Regions from separate parts of the Homo sapiens genome. Here region 1 is linked to region 2. Evidence: fine-mapped expression QTL. A gene starts in region 2. The other region holds a variant in brackets. All regions are shown on one strand. Distances are between the middles of the regions. Region 1 overlaps SFT2D2 (SFT2 domain containing 2). Region 2 holds the start of TBX19 (T-box transcription factor 19).

Region 1 (9,442 bases), 40 kb before region 2:
GGAACAGTCACTGACGAAATGGAAAAACGTGTGTCTGTGGGCTGTAGGATCAGCGTATGTGCTCAGAGGCTTGTTGGCTTTTGGTAATTCAGCTGAAGAGTAGGAAATTGTAACTCCAGAGCCAAGTATAGTAAAAGGGCCGCTGGAGACATTTTGGGAAACCATGAGTGGGGCTGTAGGTTCATGGTCCTTTCAAGCCTATACGACCTCAGAGTGAGAGGGGTGGTGGCATAGTTGGAATCTGTAGGTTCCAAGACATTTCTGTAGTTCTTTCAAAGTTTATCAAGGGATGGTATCTGCCAGAACAGTTTCAGTATAGATGTGACTCACCTATTTTTGAAAAAAATGTTTGCTACAGTGTAAAGAAAGGAGGATTGTGGACATTTTAAAGTTCTGAAGAATTGGTTAACTCCTATTTGGTAGAAATGAATCTTGAGACTGTAAGCTTAACTCCCATCCCTCCCTTTAGCAATTTTGGACTTTTGAATAAATATAGTTACAAATTGCCTTTTGGAATTTACTGTGTTGACAAGTAATTGAGCTTCTGTACATGTTAAGTATAAGATATGGAGAAGGATGCTGGTGTTTGTGTTTATGTGTGTGTGTGTGTGTATGTTTTTTTTTTTTTTAAATGACATGCACATTTGAGTGGTAGACTGTTTATATTTTGATTTTTCTTCCAGGGCAGAAATTGGTACCTATATACACACACCTTGCTTTGCTTATAGACTGATTTTGAATCCAGTTTCAGAGGTTCAGCATTCATATGGGTCCAGCTGAATGGTGATATTCCCTTCAACACTCATGTGTTCTGACTGTGTTTGCTTTTCTAAGGGCTAACTTACAGTCTGCCTGACACACAGTGCCTGGTTCTTTAGCATTATGGAGCCTGTTCCTTGTATATGGTTTCCTTCTAAGTGACAGGGCTGAGCTAACTGGAATTTACCAAGATACCTTTGGACGTACTACATTTTCACTCATAGAGTAGTTGGTAGCATTTTTTTCTTCTTCTTTTTTATTCTCTTTTCTCTTCTTTTAAAATTAATAGGAGCAGAGCAGAAAATTTATCCCAATTAGGTAGAAGTTAAATTCTGTTTAGAATTTATAAAATGTTAGGAGTTCAACTGTGCCAGGTATGGGTGGCTCACACTGTAATGCCAAGACTTTGGGAGGCTGAGGTGGGAGGATTGCTTGAAGCCAGGAGTTTGAGACTAGCCTGGACAGTGTAGCAAGACCGGGTCTCTGCAAAAAAACAAACAAACAAACAAAAAAAAACATTAAAAAATTAGCCGGGCATGGTGGCACATACTTGTAGTCCCAGCAATTCTGGAGGCTGAGGCAGGGGGATTGCTTGAGCTTCCTAGACTTGAGCCTAGAAATTCAAGGCTGCAGTGAGCTATGATTGAGCCACTATATTCCAGCAGCCTAGGTGACGAGCACGACCCTGTCTCAAAAAAAAAAATAAATAAATAAATAAAGGAGGGGGGTGCGGTTCAACTGTTCTGGGTTTTATTTGATATTTTTTCAGAATAGAGTTTCTGTGCCATCTGGGTATTTGAAATCTGACTGTTTAAGGTGATTGTTGCTAGTTCAAGGTTATAGCAGTACTGCATTGAGGCCGAGGTCATACGGGTTATCTCCACATGAACCTTTTGCCCTTCTTCTGTGGCTGCCTATCTGTACATGGCCATAGTGTGTGTGTTTGGGTACACGTGCATGCACATGCGTGGGCCTTTGTGTGCACATGCTCATCCCCCAGGCTGAGTATGGGAGAGGGTCTGGATAGATCACTGCAGGTATTCTTACAGCTCAGAAGCCCATTCTGCTGGATAATCTGCTACTCCCTTCATCTCATTTGACCCTTTGTTTTGTTTTTCATTATAGGTACAGCCTTTCCTTCATACCATTTGCAAGGTAAGACTGTGTATTTGGAAATAATGATTTCTGTCATTTTAATTCAGAGTCTGCTTTCAGAGAGTATAGCCTATTTTATTTATCTTTACTGAAGTCTTTTGAGTCAAGTAGACAAATACTATACATCTCATTTATAGATAAGTAAGTTAAAGGTCACCCCACCACCCACTCTAATTATACAACTAATGATGGATATTTACCCAGGTACACTGATTTCCAATGCTGTGAACATTCTACTCTTATATATGGTGCATATATGCACATTATTACTCTTTTAACCCGTAGCTTTGAGTAGGGTTTTTTTTTTTTTTTTTTTTATAAAGGTGAATGTCATTTCATATCACTGAGTAAGATATGGAGGGATCTCAATTCGTGCTTCTTGCAGTATCCCACTGCTGGGAAGGTTTCACAAGAGTTTATAAAGGGAGAGTAAGCAGTACCAGGGCTTCCTAATTAGCAGTGTGACCTCGAGCAGCTCTCTTGACCCCTCTGGCCTCAAAGCATCGATAAGTAGACTGAGTTGGTCTAGATCATCTCCAGAGGCCTCTTTTAGCTCTGAAATTCTAATACTCCATACCTCTTTAAGCACTTTCAGTGACGGACCTCTCAAAATTAGCCGCATGATCTTTGCCTCTGACTTTGTTCTAATGCAACTATTTAACTTCTGTTCTTTTTTTTTTTTTTTTATCATTACCTGTTAATTAAAAACAAGCTTTTTAAAAAAACTGTACTGGGCCAGGTGCAGTGGCTCACGCCTGTAATCCCAGCACTTTGGGAGGCCGAGGCGGGTGGATCCTGCTGTCAGGAGATCGAGACCATCCTGGCTAACACAGTGAAACCCCGTCTCTACTGAAAATACAAAATATTAGCTGGGCGTGGTGGCAGGCGCCTGTAGTCGAAGCTACTTGGGAGGCTGAGGCAGGAGAATGGCGTGAACCCAGGAGGCGGAGCTTGCAGTGAGTCGAGATGGCGCCACTGCACTCCAGCCTGGGCGACAGAGCGAGACTCTGTCTCAAAAAAAAAAAAAAAAAAAGTACTGAGGAAATGAAAAATTATGCATGACTTGGGAAGGAGGAAGAGCAATCTTATGTCTTAACAAATTCCAAGACTGTTGCTGACAGTGATTTGAAAGTATTGAGGAGTGATTGATTGGATGCGAAGTTAAGCCTTTCAAGTGAAAGGCAGCTGAGTGGCTTTGTTGATAGATTCTAGGAGGGTAACAGTTATGAAATACTCCATGCAGACCTGGCTGGTTTTGGGGCCTGGTGGCTTGTCTGAGAAGAATATGGGCAGGGATGTCCTGGGAAGCTAGATTTTTATGTGAAGTAAACCGGAGTTCATCATTACTGAGGATCCAATGAGATATTGATCAACCTGCCAACATATGAATATTTTTTGGTCCCTGAACCAGCTGCATAGTTTTCAGGGCCCAGTGCAAAATAAAAATGTGAGCTTCTTGTTCAAAAATCATAGGCCGGGCACGGTAGCTCAGCCTATAATCCCAGCACATTGGGAGGCTGAGGTGTGCGGATCACGAGGTCAGGAGTTCAAGACCAGCTTGACCAACGTGGTGAACTCCTGTCTTTACTAAAAATACCAAAATTAACCGAGCGTGGTGGCGTGCACCTGTAATCCCAGCTACTCAGGAGGCTGAGGCAGTAGAATCGCTTGAACCTGGGAGGCGGAGGTTGCACTGAGCCGAGATCACGCCATTGCCCTCCAGCCTGGGCAACAGAGGGAGACTCTGTCTCAAAAAAAAAGATTAAGAATTTCAAGATGGCAACATCAAATCAAGGCATTAAACCCAATGTGGACCCTTCTGAGTATGGGGCCAATGCAGTTGCACAGGTCTCATTCGTGAAACTTGCTTGGAGTCATTTGTCAGAGCTTCAGTCTTGATCTGGATTGGCATGTATAAAATTTATGTACAAGTGATTGATAGAATGAGGGAATTTTATTTGAGATAGTGAGTTTCATGTGCTGAGGAGACGAATTACTCCTCTAGTAGGGAGGGAATCACAGAGCTAGATCCCACCCTTCTATTCTTTTTTTTTTTTTTTTTTTTGAGATGGAGTCTCACTCTATGGCCCAGGCTGGAGTGCAGTGGCCCGATGTCAGCTCACCTCAGTCTCCAACCTCCTGGCTTCAAGCTGTTCTCCTGCCTCAGCCTCCATGTGCACGCCACCATGCCAGGCTCATTTTTTGTATTTTTAGTAGAGATGGGGTTTCACCGTGTTGGCCAGGCTGGTCTCGAACTCCTGACCTCAAGTGATTGGCCCACCTCGGCCTCCCAAAGTGCTGGGTTTACAGGTCCGAACCACCATGCCTGGCCCCACCCTTCTATTTGTAAGTTCCCCTGGAATAGCTTTTCCCACAGTGTTCCACAGAAATAGTGTTTCTGTGGAAGAAAAGAGTTCTATGATCAAGTAAGTTTGAGAAACAGGTTAAGCAAAATTAGGTAGGTTCCTCTTTGCCTGGCTTGCTAGATCCTTCCATATGCTATGTGTATTGTGAGCTGCCATGAGGGGGACTTATGTGGCCATAAAACCCTTCTTGTGCAGAGACTCTTCTGAGACTACAGTGCAGAGTATATCTCAAGAAATGCTGCCCTGGAACCATCTTGATATTAAAATGCAGTGCCTACTCATGGAAATGCATCCATTCACCTCTCCCTCCCTTATGTGACTCCCAATGTCCTTAGTGCAGCACAGTTGAGAACGTGGAACAGAGCTGGGGTATGAGAAGCCTAGTGCCACATTGCACAGTGTGGTGTGGTGGTGGAAATGGAAGTGCTTGCTTGGGTAGAATAGTAATTTCTTGAAGACCAACTCTTCCTTGCACCCTCTACACTGAATTCCAAGCAGTAAATACCTGTGATAAGGCCATTATAGCATATTAATAAGTGCTCAGGACCCATAGTGAGCTCCCTTCTGCTGCCTGCTTAGAATGAAGAAAGGTCCCAGTTAATATTTGATTTAATGCTGTCAGTGCATTCTGTGATTTTGACCGATATTAAAGTGCAGCAATCCTGACTGATTTCTTAGTTTCTGACAGTCTATGTTATCTTTTTCTCTGATTATGATGGCTAATCCCATAATCAGACTGTCGGGTAAGTGGGGACATCCCCTCTTACAGATGAGGAATTTGAAACTCAAACAGGACAAGGAACTTTCCCAGGATAGTACTACTAATAAATGTTGAAGCTGCAGTTTGATGCTGTGAAGGTCTGATCTTTCAGTCTAGGTGCTTTCTACTCTGCAGCTTCCACTCTGGGTGCCCTCTAAAGGAGTGCCTTTGGGGTGATGACGTTCCACTCATCTTTGTGTCTTTTCTTTCCTAGGGATGCTGTGAAGAAGTGTTTTGCCGTGTGTCTTGCATAATTCATGGCCAGTTTTATGAAGCTTTGGAAGGCACTATGGACAGAAGCTGGTGGACAGTTTTGTAACTATCTTCGAAACCTCTGTCTTACAGACATGTGCCTTTTATCTTGCAGCAATGTGTTGCTTGTGATTCGAACATTTGAGGGTTACTTTTGGAAGCAACAATACATTCTCGAACCTGAATGTCAGTAGCACAGGATGAGAAGTGGGTTCTGTATCTTGTGGAGTGGAATCTTCCTCATGTACCTGTTTCCTCTCTGGATGTTGTCCCACTGAATTCCCATGAATACAAACCTATTCAGCAACAGCACATAAGCCTTGGGTGCAAGTGATTCCCAGGTGGCAAAAGGCAGCC[C/T]CATCAGAGATCACGGGAGCAACAGTAAGGGACAGAGTTTTGGGGTCCACTTGTCCCTCAGCATGGAAGCCATCACCGTGGTCCTGCATAGAGTGAGTCTGCTTCTACTCTGGCATCTGAGAACAAGTGACTCTGCTTTAGACAAGCCCCTGGAGAGCCTGGCCATGGAGTGAGGTAGAAAAGAAGCACTTTTTGGTGGTATATGCTGTTTCTGAATTTGAATCTAAGCATTCTTGGTGTTCTGATTCTGCGCCTGACTGTGGAATGTATTTTCTGACATTAGGTGCAGACTCTTTTTCTCTTGGGTTTTATTTCCCATCCCTCCCTCCCTCTCCCTGCATATCTTTCTTTATGACCTCCTGGCACTAGATGGGGAAAGAACAGAGCAGCAGCAGAAAATGCTGCTGTTTTTTTTTTGGACGAGAGCCCATAGGAGTTGAAAAATCCTGCTGCTCTCAGCTATATTTTTTTCTCCATTATTTATAAATGTTTGCTTTTAAACTGATTTTATTTTCCATTCTCCCCTGGAGTTGGGCCAGGGGAGAGTGGGGTGGGAAGACAGATCCCTGCTGTGCAGCCAGCAGGAAGTAGGCACGCCTGCCCAGTGACCTTTAAATAGTCCCAGTGTTTGCACTTAGCCTGTGCTGGGGACACTGGGGATAAACTGCAGGTGGTCTCATGTCAGCCTGATGCCTAACCTACAAAGTGCTTTTGTGTCCACGATCTTACCTGGTTCTTATGGAGAGCCTTGTGAGGAAGCAGGGATTGTTATACCACTGTGCAGTCAAGGGAATCAAGGCCCACACTGGTTTTTGGATCCACCCAAAGCCACAGCTTCAGCCTCCTTCATGACCCCAGAGTTTCCTGGCCTGTTTCTGGTTGTGCCTCCTGTAACTGCCTGTGACTGTTTCCCTCGTTTTCATCAGCCAAGCCATCTCCTCCCTGGCCCTCCCTGCCCATCTCTTTTGGAAGCTTCTTCCTGGATCTGCAGGATGTTCACTGTCCCTTGTGTTCCCTTTCAGCTCCTCCTTGTTGCCTGACTACGATTAGTGCCCTGTCTTGTCAGCCAGCATTCCTGGCCCTCCAGGACCTCCAGAGTCATCCTACAAATGACGTTTATCTGGATTGCCTTTCTGTTCTTTGCACAGGGCCAACTGGTCCACTAGGGCTCCTCCTCTGTCACTGCTAAACCAAAGGAAGTGGCCTGCTGGTTGTCCCCTTTCTTGTGGCTAATTGCTGAACCTTTCTTTGTCCTACTGTGGCTAAGAACTCTGACTGGTTTTTTTTTTTTTTTCTTTTTGAGATGGAGTCTCACTCCGTCGCCCAGGCTGGAGTGCAGTGGCGTGATCTCTGCTCACTGCAACCTCCACCTCCCGGGTTCAAGCAATTCTCCTGCCTCAGCCTTCCAAGTAGCTGGGATTACAGGTGCCCGCCACCACGCCCGTGCTAATTTTTGTGTTTTTAGTGGAGACAGGGTTTCACCATGTTGGCCAAGCTGGTCTGGAACTCCTGACCTCAGGTAATCCGCCCACCTTGACCTCCCAAAGTGCTGGGATTACAGGTGTGAGCCACTGTGCCCTGCTGATCTTTTCTTCTGAGGCTGGGGAGGTGTGAACAAGCCTGACGGGGCCAGAGAGAGGAGCTAGTCTTCCCAGGTTCTTTCTAGGCTATTGATGACATCCAGTCATCTGCTCAGGTCACTAACCTGTCCTCAGCCAGGAAAGGAAATTTTATGCTACCCCTCTGGCTTTTGTGGGATTCTTTCACATCCCAGGTGCCTCTTGGAGACAGATCTCAGAAGGGCTGTGGTGTCAGAAGGGACATGGAGGAGGTCAGGAGGGCTCATGGTTCCTTTTCTTTAGAACTGATACGAGGCTTGGCTAGTCACTGTGAGCTCCAGCAGCTCCAGCAGCCTGGAATAAGACACCTAGAAGGCTCATCCCTCCATGTCCATGTCCTTTTTTTTTTTTTAGATTGAACAACCATGCTTTGTTTAAAAAATAATCTCAGCAAACTAGGGATACAAGAGAATTTCCTCAACCTGTCGAAGGGCATCTTTAAAATATCTACTGCTAACATCCTATGTAATGATGAAAGGCTGAATGTTTTCCCCTAAGATTGAGAATAAGACAGAGATGTCAACTCTTACCACTTCTATTCAACGTTGTACTGAAAATTCTAGCCACTGCAATCATGTTTTAATTGGGAGTAGGGGGAAAGAGGGAGGGAAGGAGAAAAATGAAAGGCCTTTAGATTGAAAAGAAATGAGTAAAACTGTCTATTCACAGATATTATCATCTATGTAGAAAACCAAATCAAATCCATTACTAAGTTACTGAAACCAGCAAGTGAGTTTCGCAACACAGCAGGATATATAATTGATATACACAAATCAATTGTGTTTCTCCATGTTAGAAGTAAAGAATTAGGAATTGAAAATTTAAAAATAATACCATTTACAATAGCATTAAAATATAAAATTCTTGGGAATAAACCCGACAAACTATGTGGATTATCTGTACACTGATAACTAAAAAGCATTGCTAAGAAAAATTAAGACCTAAGTAAATATCTTGTTGATAGGTTGAGAGACTCAACATTGTTGATGTTAATTCTTTCCCATATTAATCTATAGATATAATGCAGTCCCCATCCAAAGCCAAGCAGGCTTTTTTTTTTTTTTTTTTGTAGAAATTAAAAACTGGTTTTAAGATTCACATGGCATGCAGATGATCTAGAAGATCCACAGTAACTCTCCTGCTGTGCAGCTGGTTCCTAACAGGTCATGGACCTGTCCATGGCCTGTAGGTTGGGAACCTCTGCTACAGAGGATCCAGATTTAAATTCAGAAGAAGCTTCATCTATTTCTGTAGTTTCATTTTCTTGCAATAACTGCTGCATCAAACTTGAACTTCGCAGGATTTTCTGAAGCTGCTCAATTTGGCCATCTTGCTTTTTAATTGTATTTCTTAACACTAGAATTTTCTATTTCAAGTTTTTGTACGTGGCCTTGCGTCTCCTTAGTACATTTTATAGTCGCTGTAAGTTGATTCCATTTTTCTTGAAATTGAATTCTCATCTGACCTAATTTCTTCCTTGAATCCTACATCTCACTTTCTCAATGGACGCAGTGACGCAATGAAGCATCCAGCAAAGCTTTTGTTGTTGATTGTTTAGGACGTCACCCTGTTTTTGTTGAAGTTGTCTCACAACTACTTCTCTTTCTGCTTTCTCTCTTTCATATTGACATTGTTTTTCTTTCAAATGATTAACTTTATTGATCATCCTCTTGTTCTTCTAGCAAAAGACGGTGCTTTATGCACTCAGCTTGAAGATTTTGTGCTGTAGCATCACATTTGGCTTGACTATCAATTACTGTTTTTTCTTGATTGTCAGCTTTGTTGTGAACATCATCCAGTTGCTGTTGAAGCAACATATTTTGTCTTCGTAGTTGACATAATCTTACTTGCTTTTCTGTGCATTTTTCTACTTTATCTTGGCCACTTGTGTACATTTTTTCAATGTCCTTCATTTGACACCGTTTGGTTTAGCTCTCTTTGTATGTGTTCAAAAACCAAAGCGTTTTCTTTCAGAGCCTCTCTTGTGTTATGGAGCTCAGTTTTGAGGCACCTGGACTTACTCTCAGCTTTAGAAAGTTGCTGAGAAAGAATCAGAACATGAGAATTCAAATTTTCCTGTAAATGACGCAATTTATCTACTGTGCCCTGGAAATCAAGCTCTTGGTCTCTTTCTGTTGAGTGACTTTGATCATGATCATGTAGAGCAACATTCA
Region 2 (9,442 bases):
TTTTTTCTGCCAAGTTTTGGTATCAGAATGATGCTGGCCTCATAGAATGAGTTAGGGAGAGTTCCTCCTCCTCTATTTTTTGAAATAGTTTCAGTAGGATTGGTACCAGCTCTTTATATGTCTGGTAGAAATCAACTGTAAATCCATCTGGCCCAGGGCTTTTTCTGGTTGGTAATTTTTTTATTACTAATTCAATTTTGAAACTTGTTATTGATCTGTTCAGGCTTTCAATTTCTTCCTGGTTCAGTCTTGGGAGGTTGTATGTTTTCAGGAATTTGGTCATTTCTTTTAGGTTTACCAGTTCGTGTCAGCACCATCTATTGAAGAGACTGTCCTTTCTCCAATGTATGTTCTTGGCACCTCTGTCGGAAATGAATTCACTGTAGGATTTATTTCTGGGTTCTCTATTCTGTTCCATTGGTCTATGTGTCTGTTTTTATGCCAGTACCATGCTGTTTTGGTTACTATATCTCTTTAGTATAATTTGAAGTCAGGTAATATGATTCCTTCAGTTTTTTTTCTTCTTGCTCAGGATGGCTTTGGCTATTCTGCATCTTTTATGGTTCCATATGAATTTTTAGGATTTTTTTTTCTATTTCTGTGAAGAATGTCATTGATATTTTGATTGGGCTTGCATTGAATCTGTAGAGTGCTTTGTGTAGTATGGACATTTTAACAATATTGATTCTTCCAGTCCATGAACATGGTTTATCTCCCCACTTTTTAATGTACTCTTCTATTTCTTACATCAATGTTTTATAGTTTTCATTGTAGAGATCTTTCACTTCTTTGGTTAAGATTATTCCTAGATATTTTATTTTATTTGTAGCTGTTGTAAATGGGATTACTTTTTTGATATCTTTTTCAGATTGTTCACTGTTGGCCTATAGAAGTGCTATATTGATTTTTGTATGTTGATTTTGTATCCTGCAACTTTATTGAATTTGTTTATATATTCTAATAGTTTTTTGGCAGAGTCTTTAGTTTTTTCCAAATATAAGATCATATCATCTGCAAACAAGGATAATTTGACCTCCTGCTTTCCAGTTTGGATGTCTTTTACTTCTTTCTCTTGTCTGATTGCTGTAGCTAGAACTTCTAGTATTATGTTGAATAACAGTAGTGTAAGTGGTCATCCTTGTCATATTCCAGTCTTAGTTCTGTTTTTTCTTCATTTCTCCCTTACTGGTGCTTCAGAACACTTCACATTTCTGTATTGGAATTCCACAAGCGTGTCTTTCTGTCCCTTCTAGATTGTAAAACTATTTGAAGGAAAGATTTTTATCTTACTGGTAGACTGTTTGGGGAGACATTGTTCACTGTATCTCACAGCGTTTTCCTCATAAAGATTTATGGGGGAAATTTCTCACAGGTCAAGGCTTGCTTTTATTTTAGGGACACAGTTTAATGTATGCCAGATTATATTCCCCCACTTTGCATTGGCTGCTTGGAAGCTCAGAGCCACAATTGTGTCACAGTTCTAAGCAGCGCCTTCTCAAAATCTCCACTTATATACCTAATAGTCTTTGCATTAGTCTCCTATTGCTGCTGTACCAAATTACCACAAACTTAGTGGTTTAAAACAACATAAACCTATTATCTTACAGTTTGGGGAATCAGAAGCCCAAAATTAGTTTCACTGGACTAAAGCCAAGGTGTCAGCAGGACTATGTTCCTTCTGGAGGCTTTAGAGGATAATCTATTTCCTTATCTTTCCCAGCTTCTAGAGACTTCTTACATTCCGTGTCTTCTGGCCCCTTTTTCCATCTTCAAAGCCAGGAGTGTAGCATCTTCTCTCCCCTCTGACTTCTGCATCTGTCCTTACATCTTCTTCCTCTGACTTTGATCCTCCTGCCTCCCTCTTATTTTTGCGATTGCACTGGGCTCACCAGATAACCCAGGTTAATCTCCCCATCTCAAGACCCTTAACTGAATCACATTTGAAAAGTCCCTTTTTCCCATGTGAGGTAATACACTCACAGGTTCTGGGGATTCGGAAATGGGTCTCTTTTGCAGGGGGTCCTTATTCAGCCTGCCACATTCTTTTCAGTGTTAGCTGTATGAAACTGAAATGTTTGAGTCTCCTAACCAAACTGTACCTCTGCCTACCCTTCCACCTCCCTCACCTTCCATATCTCAGTAAATGGCCCTGCCATCTAATAATTGTTCTGATCAGGCACATGGTTCTCTGCTCTCCCTCACCCCCATATCCAGTCTCTCATGTTGTTCTGTCATATAGACTTCTAAAGTGTATCTAGAACCTGTACACTTCATTTTTTGGCCACTGCCACTACCCTAGGCTAAGCCATCACCAGCTCTTGCCTGAATTGCTGTCATAGCCTCTAATTTGTTCTTTACTTCAGCTCTTGCCCTTTCCTAGTCTATTCTTCACAAATCGATTAGATTTTTTGCAAACACAAAGCCAATCATGCTGTTTTCCTACTTAATACTCTCCAATTGTTTCCTATCTCATGCTGAAGAACATTCAAATTCTTCATCATGACTTCTAAGGCCTCATGGTCTGGCCTGGCCCTCTCTCAAAGAACATCTCATTCTGCTCTCTTTACCACCACATTCTGGTCACACTGGCCTCCCTGGAGATTTCTACCTGGCTCAAGCCATGCTTCTCACATGTAATTCTTCTGCTTGGCACTCTGCCAACTCTTCCCCGACTACATCTTTGCTGAGCTTTTGGTCTCATCTGAAATGTCTCCTCCTCAAAGAAGCTGTTCTATACAACTCCATCTAACTGGAGTTCCCTACCCTGCTGTGCACAAATTTTTCTTGATCACTTCACCCTTTTAAGTAGCCTTCATAGACTTATCACTATTGATAATTACTTAGTTGTTGTTTACTTTATATCATTTATTTTCTCCATCATATTGTTAATTCTGTAAAGGCGCAGGCCATTTCTGTTTGTTCCTTGCTGTATGTGATGCTTCATAGGTATGTAGCATAGGAGATCCTGAATACATTTTCTGTCATCCTTACCCTGACTTTATCTTACCTTTTTGGGTTTGTTTTCCTTATGTTCTTGTTTTCTTACTTTGTATTGAAATGAGAGAAAAACTCACAACCCCCAGGCTCTACTCAAGGTTGGGGGCCAGAGGAGGTAGAGCTTCCTCTGCTCCTGTCTCTTCCACCCGCCATCCACTCACTCGCCATTAGTACTGTGTGTTGTGGGCAAAAGAAAAGCTTTCTACTAGTGTTTCTTCCCAGGGAATGTGGGATTCATCCTGGAATGCCAAAATAAGGATGAATTGTCTAAAGAGAAAACCAGAATGCCTTTCTGGACCAAAGATTGAAATTGCTCTGCCTAATAATGTAAACAGTTTATTTTCACTGACTGGGGGCAGAGTGTTCCTTAGCGAGATTAATATGATACTAGCTGCTTTTTTGTCTTCCTCTGGCAAAGGCTAGAGATAACAAAAATTGGGGTTCTAGACTCTAGGGAGGAAGGACAACATTCACAGCTCCATTTGTAGGAGGTGAGGAGGGCCCTTGAGAAAAGTGGGGTGTGAGCGAGTATAGGACATTCAGGAGAGAGATGATCAGTAGGGGACACCCTGGGAGAAAGAGATTCTGAGCTCTTTTCTTTTCTCCGGAGCCCTGACCCTTGAGCAGTGGCACACAGAGTGTCTTCCTTTATTCTCTGGTACAGTAGTCATGTTTCTTGGCACAGTGCCTTGGACCTTCCATACATGCTTTCTTCCCTCCAGAGCCTTCGTCTAAGATGCTGGAGAGTAGCTTATAGCCTGGGCATCAAGTTTGTCGATTCTCCCCAGGACCCTTTTCTTTATAGGTGCCACATGTCATGATTTATGCACAAACATGATTTGCCTGACAGTGCAGTCTGGGCCTGGAATAATTTTAATTAATGGGAAAATGGTCCTCAATACACCGATTAGACCTCTTCAGGTACAACAAGATAAAAGCCTGATAATTTGGATGGAGTACTCTTCTTAAATATCTACTCTGTGCACGGCAGCCAATGGGAAAGCCAGGCTCTCTCCCACCTGATCCAATGAGTAATTAAGAGAGGGCTTTTTCTTCCCTACCTCTCCCCTGCCTCCACCCCGCTCCCCAACTAAAGCTTAACAGGTTGGTGGCATAATGTGGAGACTTTTAAGGGGTGTCATCCTAGGAGCTTAGGCAAGAGCCAGGGTATCTTCTCTCCGCTCCCCAAGCACTGTTCAAGTGGGTTTGAAAAGCAGGCAAGTGAGGGAAGGAAGAAGCTAGAAGCAGGCAAGTTGGGTAACGGCTCTCGGCAAAGTTCGAGAAGTGCCTATGGCCATGAGTGAGCTGGGCACTCGGAAGCCCAGCGATGGCACTGTTTCTCATCTGCTCAATGTGGTGGAGAGTGAGCTTCAGGCAGGGAGGGAAAAAGGCGACCCTACGGAGAAGCAACTTCAGATCATCCTGGAGGATGCACCTCTCTGGCAGAGATTCAAGGAAGTCACTAATGAGATGATTGTGACCAAGAATGGCAGGTGAGTTTATCTGCCGCCCCGCGTGGGCTGGCAGGGCTTGGCAGGAGAGATGAGACCCCTTGAATATTGAAGAGGCTGCCGCTCTTCACTCAGAGGCGGCGGGATCTGATTAAACATGCTTACAGGAACGACTGTCTCCAATGGCTTTCCTCCAGCCAACTTAATTAATTTATCTGAGATCATCAGAGGATGAAGCCACCTGTCTTATGTGCATTTTAAATGGAGAAATTCTGGGGAAATTACCATAAAGTGGGGGGCATGCCCCATTGGGATGGGAAAATGGACTTAAATGTCAGAAAATAATATTAATTTGTGACTAGCTGCATACCCTATCGCAGACCTGAGCCCCAACTCCGTCCAGATAAGGTGAAAGACAACTTTATTTGGAAGCTGGATGATCTCCTCCTAAGTATAGCAAACTTGCCAGAAATGTTTGGCTAGTTGAAGATTGGAAGCAAAAGGGCAAATGTAAACTCATTGCCTATCACTTCATCTGCTTCCCCGTGTGTGTTTGTGGTGAGTGTTCATTTGAGATTGTGTGTGTTTGTGATGATATGAAAGCTGTTGCAGTAATAGTGGATGAAAACATATTATTCTGCTTTAGAGAAAAGAAGATGCCTTCTTTCTTATCAGTGCAACAAATTTAGGGATTAACTGAAACTGATCTCTGGTGGCATTTCTCAGATTCTATTAAACCTAGTCTGCTAAGGGGCTGTCCAGGTAATATTAGAAGATTTCACTTCGTAGAGGAGACGCAAATATTTTGAAACAAAATCTCACCGCTCGCAGCTTGGCCAAACTGGCTCCAACATTCAGCTGGTGTTCACATAGCTTTTCATACACATGGTCACAAAAGTACAAAATGCTGAAAGGCATTTTCAGTAGGCTTAGTTTTGGCTGAACTCTAATTATGACACCCTCGAGAGAATTCTGATAAAAGAGAAGAGCCGAGGCCATCTGAACTTCTTTCTGTCAGGCTTTTGTCCTTGTGCAAAGTGCTTCCGTTCCTGATGTCTCGGTTTTCTATATTTTAATAAAGCACAGTATAGAAAATGAACTATTTCTTGTCAATCTTGAAGAGTTATGAACTCGAGAGCTGTTACATGGCATTAAAATGCTTTCTAAAATGAAAGCCATACCTGAATTAGGGCATTTCAAGAAATTGCGATTATACCAGTAGCAGGAATATCAACCTTGCTTGATTTTTATATTTTCTTTCTCAAAATGGGTTCCACACTTATTTCATATAGATTTATTGCTTTTAATATTGTTACTGTAATTATAGTTCCTTCTCTTGACCTGTATTTACACATTATTTTTAGCTTCTTTCATAGAAGAAAACATAAAACATAGTTTTAATTTCACAGAATTACACCAAATTCTTAATTGGATTTAGTCTCTGACCCTTTAAAAATGGGCAAAGATGCAACTGTAAAAATTTTATTATATCTGATTATAGGTAGAACATTCTGCTTATTTTTCTTTGTATTATTGGATACTAATTACAGTAATACCTAGCCTTATGCTATTGATTGGGCTGTCAAATTGGCCATTTATTAAAGTAAAAATAAGTACAATTACCAAGTCAATATATGGTTCATCTATTTCAATAAGGAATAAATAATAAAAGTTTCTGAAACCATGATAAATTCCAATTTAATAATATGTTACATTGGAATGTACTTTTACCATTTAAGAAAAGTTTTATCTTGCCTTTTTATTGCCTATGTAATTTTCCCCTATATTTAAAATGTAATATTCTTCACATCAGCCCAGTGTGGTGGTGTGCTCCTGTTGTCCCAGCTACGCAGGAGGCTGAGGCAAGGGGTCCTTGAGCCCGGGATCAGTCTGGGCAACACGGTGAGACCCTGTCTTTAAAAAGCAAAATGAAATCCTTCATCTTTAACGTCATTTAATATTAGCTACATGAACAATATTCTTTGTAGAAAAAGTCTGATTGCGGTGAACTTGGCTGTTCTTATCTATGGATGTCCTGCTGTGTTTGCCGTCTTCCTATAGATGAAATCTTTTTCTTAAATTCTCCTAAGCTCTCGGAGCCCTTTAGGGTCAAGATTTTGCCAGGAGATAGAAAGTTTCCTTTATACTTTGATTAAAGAAGGGAAGACAAGTCCATAAGAAATTGATGTACTTAATAATGAATGAACTTGGTCTGAAATTACCCCCAACCTCTTAGTTTCTCAGATTAAACCATTAGTCACACTTTACCTTTGTTAATATAGACATCTTTCTTGCTTCATCTTCTTTACTCCCTTCTTCCTTCTCTCTTTTCTCCCTAACTATTTATTCCTCTATGCCTCCTTTCTACCCATTCTCCTATGTCTATAGACTCTTTGTGTCTCCTTCAAATCCTTGCCCTCCACATCAACTCCCGCACCTGGTGCAGGTAGATTTGTGGCCCTTCCCTGTGGAGAAGAATGTTCCTGGTATGATTACCCAGTCCTAGCCTTTTTCATTCATAATGTCACCTGGGCCCTTTTTCATTGACATTGTCACCTTGACTTTTTAAAAAAGCATCATTTGGGGTGGTAACTCCTATACACTTGAGGTCTCATTGTTCTGCACTAAAATAGCAAATCTTGAAATAGCGTAAGATGGGCCGATGAAAGAGTGAAAAGACTCATTGTCAAGTGGAGATCTACTTTCACATATATAAATAGGAAGCTTGCCTCTGACATTGATCAGAAGCTGTAAAGAGAAAGGCTTTTCTCTGAAAAACACGGAATTATCTCCAGAAACTGGGATCCTGATGTTGGCCTCTCTTCTTTCGTTCCTTCCTTTCTCTCTCTCTCTTCCTCCTTTTCTTTCTTTCTCTCCCCTCCCCCATTCTACTACTTCATTTCCCTTTCAGCCTTTTCTTCCTCCCTCTCTTTTTAAAATTGAAAACTTTCAGTTATTCATAGTTAATAGTCCTTTAGATATAACAGTAATAAGTATAATACCTCCTTAGAGCTCATTTGAGTCATCTCTAGTGTATCCAGCCAGTATTCCCTTTCATGTCCATCCTTTAAGCTGGAAACTTATACTTTAGTTTGCAGAAAGAATTCATTTCAGACTTCAGAGGTTAATAAATTAAATTGCTTGCTAGCATGGCAGCTCATGTCTGTGATCCCAGAACTTTGGGAGGCTGAAGTGGGAGGATTGCTTGAGCCCAGGAGTTTGAAACCAGACTGGGCAGTATAGGGAGACTTCTTCTCTACAAAAAATTTAAACAACTAGCCAGGAGGCCCAGGTAGGTTGATCACTTGAGCTCAGAAGTTTTAGAACAGCCTGGGCAACATGGAGAAACCCTGTCTCTCCAAAAAATACAAAAAATTAGCTGGGCATGGTGACACCTACCTGTAGTCCCAGCTACTTGGGAGGCTGAGGTGGGAGATCACCTGACCCTGGGGAGGTCAAGGTTGCAGTGATCACACCACTGCACACGAGCCTGGGCAACAGAGTGAGACCGTGTCTCAAAAAAAAAAAAAAAAAAAAAAAAATCAAATCTCTTGCTTTTGTTTTCTTTACTTGTAACATTTTCACCTAAGGGGAAAATGCCATATTTCTTGTCATCATAAAATAAGAGGTGGGAATTACTAAGTTTAAATTTGCCGATTAGTTTCGATGATTCACCAGTGCTTGATGATTAAGGGGTATTGGTGCAGTGCCACTGAGTTGCTGTTCATAGTCTCCAGTAAGGGCAGTACAAGAGAGGAGAAAAGTAAAGTTGCACATCAGGCCAATACATTTCCATGTCCCTACAGCCCATGGGTATTTTTCTCTGAAGTTTAAAATTACAGCTCAAGAAGATCATATGTATTTATGTAATCTGCCTTTAACCAGGCCACCTTGCTTCCCTAATGCTGTTGTTTTTTTCCCTTCGTTTATTTATCTTTAATTGACACCTGTTGCTATTCTTATGCCTGCTCACCTTCACATAAATGTCAGCATCCATGCACCATGTATGTCACACACACACACACACACACACACACACACACACACACCCCTCTAAAAGTTCTGATGAGTATTTGATAAATAGTAGAGTTTTGAGGAGAGATGGAGGAAAGTGTTTACAAGTTTAACTTTTTGAATTTGCTTTTAACTCTCTGCTGTTCCCTCACCTGTAAAATCTGCCTCATCTCTGCCCCTCTTTCTTCTTGCAAACCTCACTTCTCATAGCCTCCTCCAGCAGCACTGACTTCTGGAGATTCCCTGTCAGTGAAATAAAACTGGAAAGCTGGTCTCATAATAAAAGCCCAACAGTTTATGGGCAAAGCCCAACCACCTGTGGTTCTTCAGGTGTGGTTTTCTTGAGGAGTGCTTATTTACCCTGCCACATTTTCCTCTCTTTCTCTCCAAGGAGGCTTTCTCTCCAGGGTGGATTAAGTGAAATTATGCTGTTACTTAGGGACTGATTTACATATTTCTTATCCCTCACACTCTGGGTTTCTCTATGTTAGCTACATCTAGGAAAAAAATGGGGAAAAAAATCACCTTGATTGGAAGTGCAGTTAATTCCTGAAAATAAAGCCTGATCACGAGTGGTAATCACAGATCAATTAGTTACTGGATCCCTAGATAATGCATCCCTGTCATTGTGAGACAAAAGAGGGGAAAGTGGGGTGGGAGGAGGGGAACTTGGCTTGGAGGCAGGGTGAGTTCCATTCCCAGTTACAAGACCTTAGGCAAGTTGACTGACTTTTATTTATTCCTCATTGCCATAATAGGGAATGTATTAAAAAATGTATTAAAATAGGGAATGGATTAAAAAATAGTCATTTCTCAGTTTATTTACGTAGTGATAAAAACAAAAAATAATTATAAAGTTCTTGGCAAATGCAATACTAAAGAAAATAGAGCAATTAATCATTCTACCATTTCCCAGATATGTCCTCCTTCTAAGAGACAAGACACTGTGACTTCTTTGTTTTTATTAACAGCTTTGTGAT

What was found.
Region 1: its variant is fine-mapped to the expression of TBX19 in whole blood (TOPMed, PIP 0.91).

What each region holds. Positions count from the first base shown.
Region 1 is chr1:168,237,247-168,246,688 of GRCh38, forward strand. It overlaps SFT2D2 (SFT2 domain containing 2), which reads left to right. Exons shown (of 8, transcript NM_199344.3): 7 at 1,885-1,914; 8 at 5,255-9,442. The coding sequence ends at 5,294. It also overlaps the pseudogene ANKRD36BP1. Among named protein-coding and RNA genes, the nearest start is that of SFT2D2, 16 kb to the left of the region's middle. The variant C/T (reference allele first, on the strand shown) is at 5,650.
Region 2 is chr1:168,276,804-168,286,245 of GRCh38, forward strand. TBX19 (T-box transcription factor 19) reads left to right here and starts at 4,074. Exons shown (of 8, transcript NM_005149.3): 1 at 4,074-4,490. The coding sequence starts at 4,288. RefSeq lists an enhancer at 8,382-8,883.